Linked DNA regions of Homo sapiens: regions 1 and 2 are each reported to be linked to region 3. Evidence: microRNA targets listed by miRTarBase, many of them from high-throughput screens and not tested one by one. Region 3 holds a microRNA gene; each other region holds the end of a gene's coding sequence.
What was found. The annotated mature microRNA hsa-miR-4518 reads GCUCAGGGAUGAUAACUGUGCUGAGA and lies in region 3 at 4,349-4,374, shown strand. An mRNA with a match to its seed (bases 2 to 7 or 8) in the 3' UTR can be bound and repressed. Matches are read on the target gene's strand: a 7mer-m8 pairs with bases 2 to 8, a 7mer-A1 pairs with bases 2 to 7 and ends in A, and an 8mer does both.

Region 1 (7,186 bases), not on the chromosome of region 3:
TGTGGGAGAGTCACTGCTGGCAGGGTTGTGTCTGACCCAGCCAAGTCCCAAGCCAACCTTTTTGTCTCTGCAGGAACAGCCCCCAAGCCTGTGTCGGTGGCCTGCACCCAGCTGGCATTTTCTGGCCCTAAGCTAGCGCCCCGGCTCGGCCCCCGCCCAGTGCCTCCTCCACGGCCTGAGAGCACTGGGACTGTGGGCCCAGGCCAGGCCCAGCAGAGACTGGAGCAGACCAGCTCGTCCCTGGCAGCTGCACTGAGAGCCGCAGAGAAGAGCATTGGCACCAAGGAGCAAGAGGGGTGAGGGGGGCCGGATGGGGAGGGAGAGAAGGCTGCAGAGAAACAGTGCTCCCTGCATCCTCTGCCCAGGGATCATGGGGATGTTGGAGGGGGACATTGCAGGCACTAACGGGATAAGAGGCCAGGTGTTGAAATCACCTAGATCAGGGAATCCTGGTGGCTACCATTTAAGAGGCACAGGAGCCTGGCCGGTCCCTTGCCTCCCTGAGCCTCTGGGAGCTATGACAGCTCCCTGCCCCAGGGCCAGTGGGGTGCAGGCCACTGGCTGATCTGACCGCATCCTTCCCCTTGCTGCAGCACCCCCAGCGCCTCCACCAAGCACATTCTGGATGACATCAGCACCATGTTCGACGCCCTGGCTGACCAGCTGGACGCCATGCTGGACTGAGCCCTCCAGCAGTGCCCACTGTGACCTGCCGAAGTCCACTGCCTTTGCCCCAGCACAGAAGAGGCCCCTGCCACCCTAGGGACGGGCCAAGGGCTGGTCAGGCTGAAGTGCCCCTCCTAGCAGGGCCCCTTCCCACTCAGCCCGCGGCTGTGGGCACCACAGCTCTTGTGGGGCAGCCCACCTTAGAACCTGACTAGCGAGGGACCTCCGCTGCATCTCAGCAAAGCCCCTCCCAGGGTTTGATCGATTGAGCAGGACAGCCCTGCTCCTGGACAGGGACCCTGGTAAGAGCTCTCTCCTCAGGGAGGAAGTAGGGGTGGGGCTTTGGGGGTGCTTTCTCTGTACCCCCCAGCCCATGTCCCAAGTTGTGCCAAGGGAATGCCTCTTGCCACCCACCATCCTGCCCAGGCCCTGAGAGGCTGGAGGAGGCGTGTGTCTGGCCGGGCCCCCTCTCCGTAGGTGTACAGAGGACATGTAAATACACAGCGGTGGTGCCCAGGCAGCTCCTGCCCCCGCCTTCCCTCACTGAGGCAGGGCTAGCAGGGGTGGGAGGCAGTGGGGTTAACAGATCCCACAAGTCCTAACTTTTCAATTGTAAATGTTATTTTCTAAGCAGAGAGAAATGCATATATTTTAAATGGAATTTATTCTATCAACTGCCTGAGAGGACACAATGGGGGAGGGGCTTCGGACCACAGCAGGAGCCCCGACTGCCCACCTGAGGGCAGGGAGAGCCTGACCCCATTGGCCCAGGCCCTGGCTCTGTAACCATTAACCTCTTCCCCCAACTAACACCAATGAAAACACCATTCCACGTGACTGGGCTGTGTGTTTGCCTCTGTGACATGGGGACCCCTGACCCTAGGGGTCTCGCCTGAGCCAGACCTGAGGGACCCACCCGCGTAGATGGAGGAAGGTTTAGGCCTCCCTTTGCCAGCCACCGCCGGGGGTGGGCAGACCCTGGAGTGGCCTTACAGACCAGCCACAGGTATTTCTTAGCAATTGACACATTTTAATACAAACCAGTCTACATTCATTCCTAAAAGGCTCATTTCCAGTAAAAAATATACACCAGTAGAAACTTCTCCCAGAACTGGGGCAGAGGCTGAGGAGACCTGGGCCAGATTCCCCAAGACTGACAGGCAGCCAGCTTGAGCCAGGCACAGGAAGAGGCTCCAGGGCGAAGCGGGGGCCCTGCTCCATCTTCAGGTTCAGGCGGGAGACTCCCCCACAGAGGGAGGGAGGGGAGGCACTCGGGGCCACATCCAGGCAAGCACCACCCCCCTGCCCTCCACGGCAGCCTTGGGAGTTGGACGCGTCGGCCAAGGCTGCTGCTGTTGCTCCTCCAAAGAAGGTTGGCTTCAAGGCCGTGTCCAGGGACCCACGAGCAGAGGCACTGGGGGGCAAGGGATCTCCAAGGGGGCAAGGGATCCCTAAAGGGGGTAGCTCACAGGTGAGGGGGTTTAGGGCCCCTCTAGGGAGCGCCTGAGGCCATACATTCAAGAGTGTCCCTGGTGAGGCCCAGGGAAGAGCCAGGACTGGCCAAGGGCCCAGGCCGTCAGCTCCTCCACAGTGAGCCCCAGGGCTCAGGAAGACAGCGGGGTCTGACACGGGGAGCTGGGTTTCCAGTGCCACGGGTGCAGGAGCAAACCTGGAAACATTCATGATACAAACTCCCCTGTTCAGAAATGGGTCTGGCTTTAGCCCCAGGGACGGGGGCAACTACAGCCACCACAGCCAGTGGCTCAGAAGGGAGAGTTCATGCCCAGCTTAGTTTCAAACTGCAGCTTCTGTCGCTTCTGGTAGCGGACTCGGACCCTGGTGGGGCAGGAGATTAAAGTACAGGTTGGCAAAGATCCTTAGACCAGGGGCCGGGGCAGGACACCAGAGGAGGAGGGAGGGATGGGCAGCGGAAAGGTGGGGGAGTGTCGCCAAGGGAGTAACAGGTTTAGGGAACATGCCTGAGCCCAGAGGGAGGCGCCCTGCTGACAGCTCACCGAATCTCATGTAGCTTCACGATCTCATTGGTCACCACCACAAGGACCAGGGACAGGCAGCCCAGGAGCCATGTCAGCAGGGGCACGTCCTCCAGGCCAAAGTGGACGTGGCTGTCCCTGTGTGTCCACAGCTGCAGGTCCACAGCCGTCTGGACCACCTGACCCAGCAGCCTGCAGGAGGTGGCGGCCCCGTGTGAACCCGACACTGCTTGCTTCCTTCCCTGCTCTTCCCAGTACAACAGTTAGCTCAGGCAGGGTACAGTTAAACCACTGGCCCCGGTCCCGCCCTCCGATCCTAGCCCTGCAGAAGGCCCTCTCCTCCCCAGCCCACACTCCGCCCTCCATCCTAGCAATACTCACACCACAGGCACTGTCACGGCCCACCAGAGGTTGGTCAAGGGGCTCTTTCTCCACAGGGGCTTGGTGCGATGCACATGGGTGATGGAAATGAAGACTGGGGAAGGTGGGGCGATGTGGGGGTCAGACTTCCACAGTGGGGCTCCTCTCCCACCATCATCCACGCCCTCCCAGGGAGCCCTCTCACCAGTGTGCAGGACAATCAGGGCGGCCGTGAGCTTCTGAGCCGACAGCAGTCCATTGGCAAAGTCCTCAAACCAGGCTGGAGCCCTGTCGTCGTTGCTGCCAAAGTGAGGCATGGGCTCAGCCCCTCTAGGGCCGCAGGGAGGTAGGCTGGGGTGGGGAGGGAGGAAGCCTCGAGGCGAGGCAGGCGATGGGTGGATCTCTGGGGCTGGGACCCACCTGGGCAGCATGACGGAGGAGCAGTTGGTGAGGTTGCGGTCCCGGGAGCTGTCACAGAAGCTCTGCAGTGTGAAGCCAAAGCAGATGAGGCAGGAGCTGATGGTGAGGCTGAACTTGAGCAGGAAGCAGAGCAGGAAGTAGTGCTGGGTCTGCGGGAACAAGGCCAGTCACTCCTGGGGCGCACAGCCCCTCTGCCGGCTGCTCCTAGCTCTTCCACGTATTCAACGGGCTCTTAGTAAATGGTCAGGCCTGGGGGGATAGGGAGCTCAAGCCCCAGCAAGGGTCTTTCCCAGCTCTGTGCCACTACCTCCTCTTTGATCTGGGGGAAGACTAGGAACCAAGTGCCGGAGTTCTGCTGGAATCCCCCATCCAGAGCCTTCCAGATTAGCCCCTCTCTCCTCCCCCAATCCTCAGTCCCTTCCATGCTCACTTGCAAGGCTCACAGGGTCTGTTTTGCTTACCTTCTTGGGAATGGACTGGAGGTTTTTCCCCGTTGCCATAGACATGATGGAGCTATGGGGGGGCTTCCCCAGCAGAGAGATGCTGAAAAGCAGAGATCAGGTAGAGGGATGGTGACAATGACCCTCTGTCCCTCAATTCTCATAGAGGGAACCTCTAGGGAGTCTTGCGCGTGAGGTCGAGTCTGGTGAGGGGATGGAATAAAACAAAGGCTGGACGGCAGTGGCTCACACCTGTAATCCCAGCACTTTGGGAGGCTGAGATGGGCAGATCATTTGAGGTCAGGAGTTCAAAACCAGCCTCGCCAACATGGCAAAAACCCATCTCTACTAAAAATACAAAAATTAGCCAGGCATGATAGTGGGTGCCTGTAATCCCAGCTACTCAGGGGGCTGAGGCAGGAGAATCACTTGAGCCCGGGAGGCGGAGGTTGCAATGAGCAGAGATTGCACCATTGCACTCCAGCCTGGGTGACAGAGCGAGACTCCATCTCAAAAAAAAAAAAAAAAAAAAAAAAAAAGACAAAGGGGGTTCCCTCCATGCCTCCTGTACCAGAGGAGGTGAGACCTGAGCAGTTCCAGAACCTTGGGCTCCTGGGGCTGCACAGTGACATCCAGACACCTCCTGCTTAGGCATGGGGTGTGGGGAAGATACATGGCATCTCACCTGAGCAGAGGGTAGCAAAAGCAGGACAGCCACAGGATGTCGGTGGTACTCAGGAGTGGCGGCAGCTGGACCAGGCAAGAAAGGAACTAGACCAGGAAAGAAGCCAAGAGCCACAGTTCAATTCAGGCAAATAATAAGGGCATAGGAGCCCCCGAGCTCCCTTGCCCTGGGCCCAGATAGATGCTCACATCCTGCCAGAGGGAACAGGGGCCGGAGGGAATACTCTTCTGCCAATGAGGGTCAGCTCAAAAAGCCCAGGGGCTTCACAGAGGCTCTGGGGGGACCCCTTGACTGTACTGCTAACCCCAGCCTCCTTCCTCAGATTTTCAGCTGGCCCCTGAGTGAAGGGGTGAGTGGCACGGGGGCAATGCCTGTGCGGGCCCCACCTCACCTGGATGACCACAAGAGTCAGCTGGCACTGCAGCAGGAAGAGGAAGCACTTACGGATGCCATAGGTGGCATGCCGAGCCTAGGGACCAAGAGGGACAGATTATGGCCTGGGTCTACCTGGCCTCTCCCAGGCCCAACAGCTGACACACTTTAGCCAAGAGCCAGACGCCCAGGATGCTTCTACGAGGGGAGCAGAGGCGAATGTAACTGCCTGGGAGAGCCCGCTCGGAGGGCTGGGGAATGAGGTCCCCGGGTTCAAACAGGTCCTTTGCTGCTACTCCCACCCCAGGCGGGTCCTGTCCTGCGTCTCTCCTCCTTTGCCTGCCGAAGCACCCACCTGTTCGATAAGCCGGATGATGCTGATGGTCTCCTCCTGGCGAAAGGTCAGGGAACAGGGCAGGCTGTTGAGCTGCCCTGACAGCTGCAGGGGAGAAAGGCCATCCGAGGCCTGGGCCATGCTGATGCTGGTGGCGTAGCCAAAGGTCTCCCAGGAGCAACGGGATGGGTACAGGGGATCCAGGGCAATGCTGCTCAGGGTGGGGGACACACACACTTCAGCTGTATCTCCCACAGGACTGGGCACCCCACCCTCTTCTCCCACCATGCCCAGGTGCATTGGTCCCAGCCAGGGCGAGGTCGGCTATAGTACACACCCCCAGCCCCACGCAGGCCCATCTGATCCTCCGGTCTGGGAGGTAGAGGCTGGCCCGCAGGCTCCAGGGTCCCGCCCTGACCTGATGTCGCTCTGGAGGAAGAGGCAGCTGTTCCGCAGGTTGGCAGAGCTGCCCAGGCAGCAGGTCACCTCCCCGTACTCTTGCATGATCTTTATCATCTCACACATGGCTGAGGACAGCGTATAAGGGCACCAGAGTCAGGCAGGCAGAGCACCAAGTGGGCACTGGGCAGAGACCCATGGGACAGGAGAGCAGGAGGCGATGGGAGGTGGGCCCCTCTTTGAAACAATCCCACCCCCGGCAGCGGGATCATGTGAACATCGGCACTTCTGACTCCAACCCACAAGATTCCCCAGCTGATCCCAGCCCAGGTTCCTTTACTCCCTGCATGGGAAACCTACATCCCTCCAGAGCCCACGGGGTACGCAGGCCCAGGCAGAGCTCAGCCGACGGGACCAGGTTGCCCAAGTACCCATGGCCACAGCACTCACTCTCTGGGGTGCAGTCGGTGAAAAGGGGCACTAGCAGGGGCACGTTGTCAATGTTCTGCAGGTGGGGCCGCACTTGGTGGATACCCCGGGGCAGCTTGGCCTGGAGAAAGCAGAGATGCCAGCGGCTTCGGGATGGGGATCAGCATCCCTCCCCTCCACCGCCTGCCCACCACCTCTCTACCTCTCCCCTGGACCAGCTATGGGACCACTACAGGAACACGTGAGACAGATCCTGCCATCGTACCCGGTTGGAGTCCTCCAGGAAGCTGGGGATGTCGCTGTCCGTAGGCTGGAAGCTGATGAGGTCCGAGTGGCCCTCCTCCTCCATGAGGAGGAGCCCTTCTGCATCATCTCGGGACACTGTGGGGACAAAAGCCTCTCCCTCACCTTGGGACCAGCCTTCTGGGAACCTGTCCTTGCCCTGCAGAGAATTTTTTGCCTGTGTCCACTCCTTCCTGCTGACTACTGTTTCCCGCAGGGACATCAGAGCCATTTCCCAAGGGAATGTACTTAACTGGAGGGCTCTCCGGAGGCTCTTCCTGGCTGTGGCTCTGAGGAGGGGAATCCTCCCACCGCCACCCCGTCCCCACCCCACGCCTTTGCCCTTACCCTGATTCAGGTCATCATGCAGGGAGCCTGCGTGGCTGGGGCTGGAGGGGGGGATCTCGGAGCCAGGCATGTCACCATTGGGTGTGAGGGAGATGTGGCAGTTCCAGCCTGTCTCCAGGCCCATTTTTTCTGCAAACACCTGTGAAAGGCAGACGGCCATGAACATACGGGCCCAAAAGCCCGTGGAAACAGAGTTAGTGGTGGCAGAAGGGATGGCTCTCCCCACCTTGCTTTTGAGCTCATCCTCCAAAGAGAAGTAGACAAAGCGGATGCAGGCGTTGACAAGCCCATCAATGAGGCGCACGATGTCCAGCCGGGCCTGGTACTGGGAGGACACCATGCCCATGAAGATCTGGCCGCTCAGGGCCTGCATGCAGTCTTCCTTCTCCAGCACCTCCCCGATCCCTTCTTCAGGCAGGACACACAGGACACAGCCCGATCAGGACACCCAGGAACC
Region 2 (7,186 bases), not on the chromosome of region 3:
TCCAATTCTGAATTTTCCAAGAACCGGACGACGCCTTCCACGCTCCTGAAAGCCCACTTTGCCTCCCTCCCCCGCTGACCTCCACTGTCCTCGCAAGATTAACCTCTTCCTCCACGCTCCATGTATCAAAGTCCCCCAACCGCCGTCTCCCCTACCCCCCAAAACGGGCCGCCAAAAAGGGCCCCATCTGAGTCTCCTCCACCGTCCTCTGCCCCTTCTCGCCCGCAATCTCCGCACAAGCCCCTAGGCAGACCCCAGTGGCTCCCTTTGCAGAACCTCCCCCCGCCCCCAAGGCCTTGCCCATCCCTAAGGCTCCGCTCCAGCATCCCTGGGGCCGCTACGCCCCTCGCACGCCCGGCCGAGCCCTTTCCCCGGCCCGGTCACCCAGATGGGTCCCCAAACCTACCAGCTCCTCAGATTCTCTCCCTCCCTCGTCCTCCGCGGGCCCCCGAAGCGCCGCTCTGGCCCCACCCAGCCCTCCAGCCTCGGCCCGAGCCCGCTCTTTACCCTCCGCAGCCCGGAGAATACGGCCGGCGCCGCCGCGCTGGCCACCGCCGCCGCCTCCAGAAGCCCCGCGCCCCTGCCGCCGCGACGCGCCTGCGCCGACGTCACCGCACCCGCCAGTGCCCACCCCCGGGAAACGAACCCCGCCGCCTATTGGCCGGTGCGCCCGCCGCTCGTGCCGCACCTCGACGTCCCGCCCCCAGCTGCCTTTTCGGCACCCACACCCGGATGCAGCCTCACCACTGGCTGAACACTCGCCATCCCTGATTTCATTGGCTGCAGTCGACGCTGGTCAAGCGGACGGAAAAAAGGCCGACTTCCGGTCCCTTCATCGCCCCGCCCGCCTCTCCTCTGACCCAGGTGCTGAAGCTGCGAGAAGTGAGGCTGAAGCCCTGCATCCCGCTTCCTGCCTTCCTGGAGCACCGGTTGGGCGAATGGATGGCTCACCTGTGGCCGAGCGCGCCTGGCAGCTCCTGGAGTGGACCCTGGGACTGCTTTAGTCCCTATGTGGCAGTTTCCTCCACTGAAAACTGTTACCCACATTCTAAATACTTAAAATGCAAATGAGGTCAATCTGGGGTTGTCATACACAGGGTCCCTCTTCGTCTCAAAATAGAGGGTAACAGCAAGCATTTTATTGAGACATAGTATGTGCCAACTGACAACACTGGGAGGTATCAGGTTTGTTTTTTTTTTAATTTTATTTTTTGAGACAGGGTCTCACTCTGTCACCCAGGCAGGAGTGCAGCGGCGGTATCCAGCTCACTGCAACCTCCACCTCCCGGGTTCAAACGATTCTCGTGCCTCAGCCTCCCAAGTAGCTGGGATTACAGGTGCCCATCACCACGCCCGGCTAATTTTTGTATTTTTAGTAGAGACGGGGTTTCACCATGTTGCCCAGGCTGGTCTCGAACTCCTAAGCTCAGGTGATCCGGCACCTCAGCTTTCCAAAGTGCTGAGATTACAGGCGTGAGCCATTGCGCCCGGCCTAAATTCATTTTTTATTATTATTTTGAGACGGAGTCTCGCTCTGTCACCCAGGCTGGAGTACACTGGCACAATCTCGGCTCACTGCAAGCTCCACCTCCCAGGTTCACGCCATTCTCCTGCCTCAGCCTCCCGAATAGCTGGGACTACAGGCGCCCGTCACCACGCCCAGCTAATTTTTTGTATTTATTAGTAGAGACAGGGTTTCACCGTGTTAGCCAGGATGGTCTCGATCTCCTGACCTCCTGATCCGCCCGCCTCGGCCTCCCAAAGTGCAGGAATTACAGGCATGAGCCACCTTGCCCAGCCTTTTTTTTTTTTTTTTTTTTTTTTTGAGACAGTCTCCTTCTATCGTCCAGGCTGGAACGCAGTGGTGAGATCTGGGCTCACTGCAATCTCTGCCTCCTGGGTTCAAGCGATTCTCCTGCCTCAGCCTCCCGAGTAGCTGGGACTACAGGTGCACGCCACCACTCCCAGCTGATTTTTGTATTTTTAGTAGACGCAGGGTTTCACCATGTTGGCCAGGATGGTCTCAATATCTGTGATCCGCCGGCCTCGGCCTCTCAAAGTGCTGCGATTACAGACGTGAGCCACAAGCCGGCCTTTATATTTTTTATTTACATTTTCAACGTACAATGGGTTGGCCAGGTGTGGTGGCTCACGCCCGTAATCCCAACAGCTTGGGCAGCCAAGGCGGGCAGGTCACTTGAAGTAGGAGTTCAAGACCAGCCTGCTCAACATGGTGAAACCCTGTCTCTACTAAAAATACAAAAGTTAGCCAGGCCTGGTGGCACATGCCTGTAATCCCAGCTACTCGGGAGGCTAGCGCAGGAGAATTGCTTGAACCCAGGAGGTGGAGGTTGCAGCGAGCCGAGATCATGCCACTATACTACAGCCTGGGTGACGGAGGGAGACTCCATCTCAAAGAAAAAAAAGTGGCAGGGCATGGTGGCTAACGCCTGTAATTCCAGCATTTTGGGAGGCCACGGTGGGCAGATCACGAAGTCAGGACATCAAGACCATCCTGGCTAACACGGTGAAACCCTGTCTCTACTAATAAATACAAAAAATTAGCCGGGCATGGTGGCGGGTGCCTGTAGTCCCGGCTACTCGGGAGGCTGAGGCAGGAGAATGGCGTGAACCCGGGAGGCGGAGCTTGCAGTGAGCCAAGATTGAGCCACTGCACTCCAGCCTGGGTGACAGAGCAAAGACTGTCTCAAAAAAAAAAAAAAATTCAGCTTCCACATACCATCTTAACGTTTGCACTACTAAAAAAGAATAGGACCCGGTATGGTGGCTCACACCTGTAACCCCAGCACTTTGGGAGGCTGAGGCGGGCTGATCTCTTACGGTCGAGCTTGAGACCAGCCTGGCCAACATGGTGAAACCCCATCTCACCTAAATATACAAAAATTACACAGACCTGGTGATAGGCGCCTGTAATTCCAGCTACTCGGGAGGCTGAAGCACAAGAATTGCTTGAGCACTTGAATCCGGAGGCAGAGGCTATAGTGAGCCAAGATCACAACACTGCACTCCATCCTGGGCGATAGAGTGAGATTCTCGAAACACAGTAATCCGTTACCCTGACTGCTGGAAACAGCGTCAGTTACAGCCCCAATTCAAATGCGACAGCCAAACCAAACCTCAGGCATACCTACATGTGGGCAAAACCTCAGCTGAGGCTTGGCCTTGACAATGCAGGGCCAGAGCTGCCCCCGCCTTTGCCGAGAACCCCACAGCCCTACTTCACAGTCCCCACCTGCCTTCCTGAGGACAGAGTAAAAGGCGGAAAATGATCATGTTAACCTTATCAGCACTGACAAGATTAGGCCTCCTCACATCTTAGGCACTATTTAGAAAAACAAATAGTTTTCTAAGCTATTGGCGCTCACACCTGAAATCCCAGCACTTTGGGAGGCTGAGGCAGAAGGATCGCTTGAGCCCGGGAAGGAGACCAGCCTGAGCAACATAGTGAGACCCCATTACTACAAAAAAAGTAAAAATTAGGTCAGCACAGTGGCTCACGCCTATAATTCCCAGCACTTTGGGAGGCCGAGGCGGGTGGATCACGAGGTCAGGAGATCGAGACTATCCTGGCTAACACGGTGAAACCCTGTCTCTACTAATAAATACAAAAAATTAGCCGGGCATGGTGGCGGGCGCCTGTAGTCCCGGCTACTCGGGAGGCTGAGGCAGGAGAATGGCGTGAACCCGGGAGGCGGAGCTTGCAGTGAGCCAAGATTGAGCCACTGCACTCCAGCCTGGGTGACAGAGCAAAGACTGTCTCAAAAAAAAAAAAAAATTCAGCTTCCACATACCATCTTAACGTTTGCACTACTAAAAAAGAATAGGACCCGGTATGGTGGCTCACACCTGTAACCCCAGCACTTTGGGAGGCTGAGGCGGGCTGATCTCTTACGGTCGAGCTTGAGACCAGCCTGGCCAACATGGTGAAACCCCATCTCACCTAAATATACAAAAATTACACAGACCTGGTGATAGGCGCCTGTAATTCCAGCTACTCGGGAGGCTGAAGCACAAGAATTGCTTGAGCACTTGAATCCGGAGGCAGAGGCTATAGTGAGCCAAGATCACAACACTGCACTCCATCCTGGGCGATAGAGTGAGATTCTCGAAACACAGTAATCCGTTACCCTGACTGCTGGAAACAGCGTCAGTTACAGCCCCAATTCAAATGCGACAGCCAAACCAAACCTCAGGCATACCTACATGTGGGCAAAACCTCAGCTGAGGCTTGGCCTTGACAATGCAGGGCCAGAGCTGCCCCCGCCTTTGCCGAGAACCCCACAGCCCTACTTCACAGTCCCCACCTGCCTTCCTGAGGACAGAGTAAAAGGCGGAAAATGATCATGTTAACCTTATCAGCACTGACAAGATTAGGCCTCCTCACATCTTAGGCACTATTTAGAAAAACAAATAGTTTTCTAAGCTATTGGCGCTCACACCTGAAATCCCAGCACTTTGGGAGGCTGAGGCAGAAGGATCGCTTGAGCCCGGGAAGGAGACCAGCCTGAGCAACATAGTGAGACCCCATTACTACAAAAAAAGTAAAAATTAGGTCAGCACAGTGGCTCACGCCTATAATTCCCAGCACTTTGGGAGGCCGAGGCGGGCAGATCACTTGAGGTCAGGAGTTCGAGACCAACCAGGCCAAGCAAAATTCTGTCTCAAAATAAATAAAAATTAGCTGGGCATGGTGGCACATGCCTGGAGTCCCAGCTACCTGGCAGGCTGAGGCAGGAGAGTCCAGGAGGTGGAGGATGCAGTGAGCTGACTGCACCACTATACTCATCTGGGAGACAGCAAGACTCTGCCTCTAAAAAAGTGTTTACAAGGCCGGGCACAGTGGTACAATCCCAACGCTTTGGGAGGCCAAGGCGGGTGGATCACAAGGTCGAGTGATCAAGATCATCCAGGCCAACATGGTGAAACCTCATCTCTACTAAAAATATAAAAATTGGCTGGGCGTGGTAGCACACGCATGTAATCCCAGCTACCCAGGAGCCCGAGGCAGAATTGCTTGAACCCGGGAGGTGGAGGTTGCAGTGAGCAGAGATGGTGCCATTCCACTCCAGCCTAGCAAACGGTGAGACTCCATCTCAAAAAAAAAAAAAAAAAAAATGGGTTTCTAATAAACTAGTCAGGACTGGGGTGACCACAGAAAATCCTGATGGCAGATAGAACTTGTGAGCTCGTCAGCAATTCGGAAAGTTGCTGAAACCTGCGAAGTTCAATCCAGAGCCCCTCGCTCCACAGGGCCATCCAAATGCGTTCAAAGTGACATCTCGTAATTCCTTGCCGCACTGATCCTACTTCAAATGCTCAGCAGACCCGCGCAGCTGGCAGCTGCTTCTCTGAATGACACAGGGGTAGGGCATTCCCACCATTCCAGAACGTTCCACCTAACACTGAGGCAGCCCCAGGCTGCACCTAACTAGGGCCCGGGTCCCCTTCTAGGCTCCAGGGAGCCCAGTACTGGGCAGCCCCGCTCCCCTGCGAAGACACCGTGAAAAATGCAGAACAGAGTCACCACCTTATCAAATTTATTATTCCAATGGCACTAGTACAGCTGGAGGTGCTCATGGTGACACCGCACAGGACTTCCTGCCTGCTAGAAATCATCTACCCGCGTGTTCCTTTCCCCTTTCTGGGGCAAAAGCCACTGCGGGCCATGTACCCAAATAAACCTCTTAATGCGTTTGTTAAAATTAGTTTGGACATCTGAGTTTCCCTCTGAAGAAATGGAAAAAGTGTTGGGTGTCCCATCCCGCCTCCCCCTCCCCGACCGGCCCATTAAGTCCCTACTAAGAGGGCGTGTCTGCTGCCTCCGGACTCTGGAAATAAATATTGAAAGAAACGGCATCAAGTGTTATGGTTGAGTGATGGCACGCAGCGGGCCCCAGAAACCTCTCAGGGGAGCGTCGCTGTGTCGGGACAGTCTCCAGGTGTCGTCTGAGAATTCGAGGACGTGGTGCTGTGGGTGCTGCGAGTCCCCGGGGCGGCAGGCGCTGCAGGAAGGGCCGCCTACAATTTGTCCAGGAAGTTGTCCAGGGCAGGGATGCCTTCTTTCAGGCCCTTGCGCTTGCGGGTCTCCGCCACCACCTGGCTGGGGCGGCTGCTGTTGTCGAAGGGGTCTCCGGGCAGGATCTGCCAGTGGTCAAACACACACTGGGGGAACGCCTGGCCGCCCGTGTTGGACCTCAGGTCAGCGGTGAAGCCTGCAGAGGGAAGCGAGAGGCTCACTGGGCCATCGAGAAGGTGGCAGGGCAGAAGGAAAGTCCTGTCAGGAGCTCAGGCTAGTTCCTCAGCCTGAGTCACCCTGCAGACCAGACACTCGGCCTGGTGCCCAGCACTTCACGAAGGGCCTAGCAGGCCACTCATGGGCCTCATGCCGCTGCTCGTTTGGGACAACCCTGTGCTACAGCTCGGCTGCTCTACCGGCCCAGGGCGTAGGCCTTCAGAGCTCCAGGCCCAGAGCCCTTCTCACACTGGGGATAGGAGAGCCCCTCCCCTGGGAATTCAGTGATTTAGGGGGTCCACAAGCTGTCAGAAACTGGACCACCTGCTCCATCCATCACCTGCTCCCATCAGGACGCCTCCTTTAACACCTTGCTAAGCTTAACTGGGCTTCTGTCCCCCAAACCAGCCTGCCAGGCTCTGCAGGCCACACCGGGCAGGCACTCACCAAAGGACTCGTTGACGGGCAGATAGGCCTTGACCACAAACATGGGGGTGCCGGCCACCTGGGACTCCTCGAACACGTGGCCCCGCTTCCTGTTCAAAACCCCGTAGATGCCACCGACCACCTGCTCTGGACACTGCCAGAAGGGAAAGAAAACCTGTCAGTGGCCGCTGGGCAGGACGGTGGCAGGGTCAGCGGTGGGCGGGTAGACCTCACCTGGATCTCCACAAGGTAGATGGGCTCCATGAGGCGTGGCTGGGCGGTCAGCACACTGGCATAGAGGCAGCGCCGTGCTGTGGGGATGATCTGGCCCCCTCCGCGGTGGATGGCGTCGGCGTGCAGGGTGACGTCGTGGACGTCGAAGCGCACACCCCGCATGTTCTCCTCACACAGTGCGCCCTGGGGGAGGGGGAGAGCCACCGTCAAGGGCCGGACACACCTCGGCTGCTTGCCCTCCACCTGCCAAGTCCTGCAGGTCTCCACCAGGGG
Region 3 (7,186 bases):
TAATAACACCCTTAGCATATTTTCTTCTAGTGTTTTTTTTAAATTATATATATATGTGTATATATATGTATATATATGTGTATATATATATATGTATATATATATATATATATATTTTTTTTTTTTTGACACAGAGTCTCGCTCTGTCACCCAGGCTGTAGTGCAGTGGCACGGTCTCACTTACTACAGCACGATCTCGGCTCATGGCCACCTCCACCTCCTGGGTTCAAGCAATTCTCCTGCCTCAGTCTCCCGAGTACCTGGGATTACAGGCACCTGCCACTATGCCTAGCTAATTTTTGTATTTTTGGGAGAGATAGGGTTTCACCATGTTAGTCAGGCTGGTCTCGAACTCCTGACCTCTGGTGATCTGCCTGCATTGGCCTCCCAAAGTGCTGGGATTACAGGCATGAGCCATCGCTCCTGGCCTATTTTATATTATTTATTTATTTATTTATTTATTTATTTATTTATTTATTTATTTGAGACAGAGTCTCGCTCTATCACCCAGGCTGGAGTGCAGTGGCATGATCTCGGCTCACTACAGCCTCTGCCTCCCGGGTTCAAGCGATTCTCCTGCCTCAGCCTCCCGAGTAGCTGGGATTACAGGTGCATGCCACCATGCCCAACTAATTTTTATATTTTTAGTAGAGTTGGGGTTTCACCATGTTGGCCAGGCTGGTCTCGAACTCCTGACCTCAGGTGATCCTCCTACCTCGGCCTCCCAAAGTGCTGGGATTGCAGGCATGAGCCACTGCCCCCGGCCATATTTTATATTTTTAGAGATGGGGGTCTTACTTTGTTGCCCAGGCTGGACTCTAACTTCTGGCCTCAAGAGGTTCTCTTGCCTCAGCTTCCTGAGTAGCAGGGACTACAAGTGCACACCACTGTGCCTGGCTGCTTCTAGGTTTTTAATTTTTTTAATTTTTTATTAAAAAAATTTTTTTAGAGACAGGGCCTTGCTCTATCGTCCAGGCTGGAGTGGAGTGATGCAATCATGGCTCACTGTAGCCTCCAACTTCTGGGCTCAAATGATCCTCCCACCTCAGCCTCCCGAGTAGCTAGGACTACAGGCATGCACCACCACATCTGGATAATTTTTAAAAATGTTTTTGTAGGCCAAGCGCGGTGGCTCAGCACTTTGGGAGGCCAAGGTGGGTGGATCACCTGAGGTCAGGAGTTCGAGACCAGCCTGGCCAACATGGTGAAACCCCATCTCTACTAAAAATACAAAATTAGCTGCGTGTGTTGGCACATGCCTGTGATCCCAGCTACTTGGGAGGCTGAGGCAGGAGAATTGCTTGAACCCAGGAGGCAGAGGTTGCAGTGAGCCAAGATCGTGCCATTGCACTCCAGCCTGGGCAACAAGAGTGAAACTCCATCTCAAAAAAAAAAAAAATAGTTTTTGTAGAGACAAGGTCTTGCTGTGTTGCCCAGGCTGGTCTAAAACCCTTGGCATCAAGTAATCCTCTTACCTTGGCCTCCAAAAGTGCTGGGATTACGGGCATGAGCCACCGTGCCCAGCAGCTTCTACTTTTTAATATATTTATGGGCATTTTTAACATGATTACAATGGCAATGTAGTTACTATTTTTCCCTACTCTTTTCATACATTATATATTAATGCTGCTACACAGCTTTCATAATTTTTAATTATGAAATATTAAAATGTTTGGCTGGGCACGGTGGTTCATACCTGTAATCCCAGCACTTTGGGATGCCGAGGTGGGCAGATCACCTGAGATTGGCAGTCCAAGACCAGCCTGGCCAACATGGAGAAACCCCATCTCTACTAAAAATGTACAAAATTAGCTGGGCGTGGTGGCCCATGCCTGTAATTCCAGCTACTTGGGAGGCTGCGGCAGGAAAATCACTTGAACCCAGGAGATGGAGGTTGCAGTGAGCCGAGATCGTGCCATTGCACTCCAGCCTGAGCAACAAGAGTGAAACTCCATCTCAAAAAAAAAAAAAAAAATTAAAATATTTAATTTTTACAGAATATTCAATCATCATGGTATGTTGTTATTTGCCAGGTACATATCATGCATCCCAGAAAAACTTAGGGATTTTTTAAAGTTTTTAAATTAAGTCTCATGTATGGTACATGGAAAAAAAAAGTTTTTAAAAAAGTTAAAACAGGCCAGGCACGGTGGCTCATGCCAGCACTTTGAGAGGCTGAAGTAGGTGGATTGCTTGAGCTTAGGAGTTCAACACCAGCCTGGGCAACATAGCGAGACCCCTTCTCTACAAAAAACACCAAAAAATTAGCCAGCCTTGGTGGAGCGCACCTGTAGTCCCAGCTACCTGGGAGGCTGAAGCAGGAGGATTGCTTGAACCCAGGAGGTGGAGGTTGCAATGAGCTGTGATTGTGCCACTGCACTCCAGCCTGGGCAACAGAATGAGACTCTGTCTCCAAAACAATAAAGTTTGAACAACTGTTGAAATACCCAGATTCAGTTGCTTATAAGCAATCCTGTATAAAAATGGGATTAATATGGCCGGGCGCGGTGGCTCACGCCTCTAATCCCAGCACTTTGGGAGGCCAAGGTGGGCGGATCACGAGGTGAGGAGATTGAGACCATCCTGGCTAACACGGTGAAACCCCGTCTCTACTAAAAATACAAAAAATTAGCTGGGCGTGGTGGTGGGGGCCTGTAGTCCCAGCTACTTGGGAGGCTGAGGCAGGAGAATGGCATGAACCCGGGAGGCGGAGCTTGCAGTGAGCCGAGATCGCGCCCCTGCACTCCAGCCTGGGCGACAGAGCAAGACTCCATCTCAAAAAAAAAAAAAAAAAAAAAAAAGGATTGATATCAAATTGTTATGTTCTCTTAAATATTTCATAAAAGGCCAGGCATGGTGGCTCATGCCAGTAATCCCAGCACTTTGGGAGACTGAGGTGGGCGGATCACTTGAGGTCAGGAGTTCAGGACCAGCCTGGTCAACATGGTGAAAACCCATCTCTACTAAAAATGCAAAAAATTAGCCAGGTGTGGTGGCAGGCGCCTGTAATCCCAGCTACTCAGGAGGCTGAGGCAGGAGAATCATTTGAACCCAGGAGGCGGAGGTTGCAGTGAGCTGAGATTGTGCCATTGCATTCCAGCCTGGGCAATGATAGTGAAACTCCATCTCAAAAAAAAAAAAAAATTCATATAAGACAGTATAGGATTGGGACATAAGAATTTGAAGTTTGTTTTAAACTTTTTTTTTTTTTTGAGATGGAGTCTCACTGTGTTGCCCAGGCTAGAATGCATTGTTATGATCTGGGCCCACTGCAGCCTCTGCCCTCCTGGGTTCAAGTAATTCTCCCACCACATCCTACCAAGTAGCTGGGATTACAGGTGAACACCACCATGCCTGGCTAATTTTTGTATTTGTGATAGAGATGGGTTTTCACCATGTTGGCCAGGCTGGTCTCAAACTCCTGACCTCAGGTGATCCACCCACCTCGGCATCCCAAAGTGCTGGGATTACAGGTGTAAGCCACTGCACCCAGCCTGTTTTAAACTTTTTATTATGAGAATATGAATCACACAAAACTAGAAAAAAAATAGTTTAATGAATCCCCAGGTCCTCATCACCCAGTTTCAACAATTATCGACTCACCCTCTATTTCATTCAAACCTCTACTCAGTGCCCCTCTGCCTACTCCCATTCCACCTCTTATAAGATTTAGACATTTTAAACATAAATTTGCCAGAAAAGAAAGCAGTGTGACATGGTGGAAAGATCCTGGACTTTGGATTTGGACAGATTTGGGTTCAAATCTTGACTGTCACTCCAAGCTCTTAGGACAACTGTGCCACCTTTTTAGTTTTCATTTTCTTTTTTTTTTTTTCTTTTCTAGAGGGGGACAGAAGGAGGGAGGATGAAAGAGAAAGAGAAAGAAAGGAGGGAAGGAAGGAAGGACAACGGAGGAAGGAAGGAAGGGAGGGAGGGAGGGAGGCAGGCAAGGAGGGAGGGAGGGAAAAGAAGAAAGAAAAAAAGAAAAGAAAGAAGGAGAGAAGGAAGGAAAAGAGAAGAAAGAAAAGGAAGGAAGGGAGAGCTCATTTTCCTTATTTTAAATGTTGGGGTAATAATACCTACCTCTTAGGGCTAGTAGAACCTTCAGGTGAAAAACAATTTGAGTACCTACAAAATGCCAGTGTCAGGCATTGGTAATAGCAAATGACTAAGACCCAGCCCTATTCTCAAGGAACAAAATTCTAGAACTAGGATATTCTAGTTATTCTGAAATTTTCTTAAGCAAACTTTGATAATGGCTGCCTAGGTCAAAATTCAGGGGCTTCAGTTAGGACACAGTGGGGGAAAAGTGCTGGGATTGATTAGTGATGTCTGCTGGGGAACCGGGGCTCAGGGATGATAACTGTGCTGAGAAGCCCCCTGGGTGTGCTGTACACACCTGCTATGTAGTCAATGGATTTTCAATACTGGTAGGGTCTTAGACAAAGAACTACCAGAATTTCATCACTTGTAAAATGCTGACAAGGTATACATCTAATCGGAAGTGCGGTAAAAGTTAGATTCATGACATAGGCTGTATTCTTATCACCCTCAGGTATGTGTTCAAGACCTCATCTCCCCCATCAATGTTTCCCTGAATTTCTCTCTTTGGGAGGAGGAAGGGACACCGAGGGACCAAAGGGCGGTAAGAAGAGATGGCTAGGGATGGTGGGGAGTTTATCAGAGAAATCCATTTGGCAAGAAGAGCCGCCCATGGCCGGGCAGCACACTCCTATAATCCCAGCACTTTGGGAGGCTGAAGTGGGTGGATCACTTAAGGTCAGGGGTTCAGGACCAGCCTGGCCAACATGGTGAAACCCCATCTCTACTAAAAATACAAAGATTAGTCGGGTGTGATGGTGCACTTGAGGCCAGGAGTTTGAGACCAGCCTGGGCAACATAGTGGGACTCCCTTTCTACAAAACATAAAAAATTAGTTATTGTGATGGTGCGCCCCTGTAGTCCCAGCTACTTGGGAGGCTGAGCAGGGAGGATCACTTGAGCCAGAGGGTTGAGGCTGCAGTGAGCTATTGAGCTATGATTGCACCACTGCCCTCCAGCCTAGGCAACAGCACGAAACCCTGTCTCTAAAGAAGAAAAAAAAAAAAAAGAGCCGGCCGGGTGTTGTGGCTCACACCTGTAATCCCAGCACTTTGGAAGGCTGAGGGGGGTGGATTGCTTGAGACCAGGAGTTCGAGACCAGTGTGCCAACATGGCGAAAACCCATCTCTACTAAAAATATTTTTAAAAAATTAGCCAGGCGTGGTGGTAGATGCCTGTAATCCCAGCTACTCAGGAGGCTGAGGCATAAGAATCGCTTGAACCCAGGAGGCAGAGGTTGCAGTGAGCAGAGATTGTGCCACTGCACTCCAGCCTGGGCAACAGAGTAAGACAGTCTTAAAAAAAAAAAAAAAAAAGAGCTGCCAGCAGAGTAAGACTGCACAAATGGCAGTAGGCTGAGGCAGCAGAGTGGGGCAGCCCTGGAAAGGCAGCTGGCTCCTGGGCAGGGCCAACCACAGCCAGCCCAGTTGAGCTAAGCCCCTGCCCCTCCAGCTCTCCTTCATGAGGTCTGCTGCCTCAGTTAATCTCTCCTCTCTCCATCCTGCCCACTACCCCTCGCTCAGCAGGGCAAGGACATACCGCCCATCCTGAGACCCTCCCTGCACTCGGAAACCTGGGAGGTAAGAGGGGAGAAGGGGCAGGCAGAGAGGCCTGGGAACAAGTCCCTCCTGATCTGAGCCTGTTACTCCTTTCTTCTTGGTGTTTCAGATCCCTTTTGAGAAGAACTGTGGGGAGGACAAGAAGTGTGAGGCAAACTTGAGAGTGTCCTTCTCTCCTGCAAGGTCAGTAAGGCCTCCCACCCTCCAGCCTCCCATCCACTCTGTTTTAAGACCCCCCACTCCACTCACCAGATATGTCATTTGCAGACACCACTTCCCTCTCTTGGGCCTTAGTTTCCTTTTCTGAGAAATTTGAGGCTGAACTCAGGGGCTCATGCCTATAATCCCAGCACTTCAGGAGGCCAACCAAAGGGGGAAGATTCGTTAAGGCCAAGAGTTCAAGACCAGCTATGGGAAACATAGCAAGACCCTGTCACTAAAAAAAAATTTAAAAATTAGCTGGGCACGGTGGCTCATGCCTGTATTCCCAGCTACTTGGGAGATTGAGGCAGAGGATGGCTTGAGCCAGGAGTTTGAGGCTGCAGTAAGCACCACTGCACCCCAGCCTGGGTGACAGAGCAAGACTCTATCTCTAAAAAATAAAAAGCAAATAAAATAAAAAGCAAATCCCTCATGGAACTCCTATCAGTCATCAGTAAATGAGATTGCAAGAATTGTAAAACTGAAAGTCTGAGCATGGCCTGGCGCGGTGGCTCACGCCTATAATCCCAGCACTTTGGGAGGCCAAGGCGGGCAGATCACCTGAGGTCAGGAGCTCGAGGCCAGCCTGGCCAACATGGTGAAACCCTGTCTCTACTGAAAATACAAAACTTAGCCAGGCATGGTGGCACGTGCCTGTAATCCCAGCTATTTGGGAGGCTGAGGCAGGAGAATTGCTTGAATTCTGGAGGTGGAGGTTGCAGTAAGCCGAGACTGTGCCATTGCACTCCAGTCTGGGCTACAGAGTGAGATTCTGTCTCAATAAAAAAAAAAAAAAAAGCCGGGGGCGGTGGCCTGTAATCCCAGCACTTTGGGAGGCCGAGGCGGGCGGATCACGAGGTCAGGAGATTGAGACCATCCTGGCTAACACAGTGAAACCCCGTCTCTACTTAAAATACAAAAAAAAAAAATTAGCCGGGCATGGTGGTGGGCGCCCGTAGTCCCAGCTACTCGGGAGGTTGAGGCAGGAGAATGGCGTGAACCCGGGAGGCGGAGCTTGCAGTGAGCCAAGATCGCGCCACTGCACTCCAGCCTGGGTGACAGAGTGAGACTCCATCTCAAAAAAAAAAAAAAAAAAAAAAAAAAAAAAAAAAAAGACTGAGCATAAAAGATGATTGGTTTTGATTTATTTCTTTCTGGCCCACCAGATCCCTCAGTTCTGATATTCCCCACCCTGATCCTCCCTCCTCCATCTTTCCCTGATCATCCCCCACAGATCCAGAGCCCTGCGTCTAACTGCTTTTGCCAGCCTCTCTGTGGAGCTGAGCCTGAGTAACTTGGAAGAAGATGCTTACTGGGTCCAGCTG

Region 1: the mRNA of CASKIN2 is a reported target of hsa-miR-4518. Seed matches in the 3' UTR shown: 8mer at 1,094-1,101 and 7mer-A1 at 1,344-1,350.
Region 2: miRTarBase lists EEF2 as a target of hsa-miR-4518. Seed matches in the 3' UTR shown: 8mer at 5,924-5,931.

The regions. Positions count from the first base shown.
Region 1 is chr17:75,494,578-75,501,763 of GRCh38, reverse strand. It overlaps CASKIN2 (CASK interacting protein 2), which reads left to right. Exons shown (of 20, transcript NM_020753.5): 19 at 74-296; 20 at 594-1,503. The coding sequence ends at 684. TMEM94 (transmembrane protein 94) reads right to left here. Exons shown (of 32, transcript NM_014738.6): 19 at 6,956-7,137; 20 at 6,730-6,868; 21 at 6,365-6,480; 22 at 6,121-6,220; 23 at 5,690-5,798; 24 at 5,293-5,482; 25 at 4,957-5,034; 26 at 4,566-4,651; 27 at 3,902-3,983; 28 at 3,441-3,589; 29 at 3,226-3,320; 30 at 3,042-3,135; 31 at 2,682-2,852; 32 at 1,312-2,502. The coding sequence ends at 2,430. It overlaps MIR6785 (microRNA 6785), which reads right to left and starts at 3,216; the gene lies at 3,136-3,216.
Region 2 is chr19:3,970,515-3,977,700 of GRCh38, forward strand. It overlaps EEF2 (eukaryotic translation elongation factor 2), which reads right to left. Exons shown (of 15, transcript NM_001961.4): 13 at 6,914-7,096; 14 at 6,701-6,833; 15 at 5,542-6,233. The coding sequence ends at 6,040. It overlaps DAPK3 (death associated protein kinase 3), which reads right to left and starts at 585. Exons shown (of 9, transcript NM_001348.3): 1 at 407-585. RefSeq lists enhancers at 1-268, 6,886-7,095 and a silencer at 440-569.
Region 3 is chr16:30,499,620-30,506,805 of GRCh38, forward strand. It overlaps MIR4518 (microRNA 4518), which reads left to right and starts at 4,300; the gene lies at 4,300-4,382. ITGAL (integrin subunit alpha L) reads left to right here. Exons shown (of 31, transcript NM_002209.3): 18 at 4,556-4,645; 19 at 5,625-5,681; 20 at 5,770-5,843; 21 at 7,096-7,186.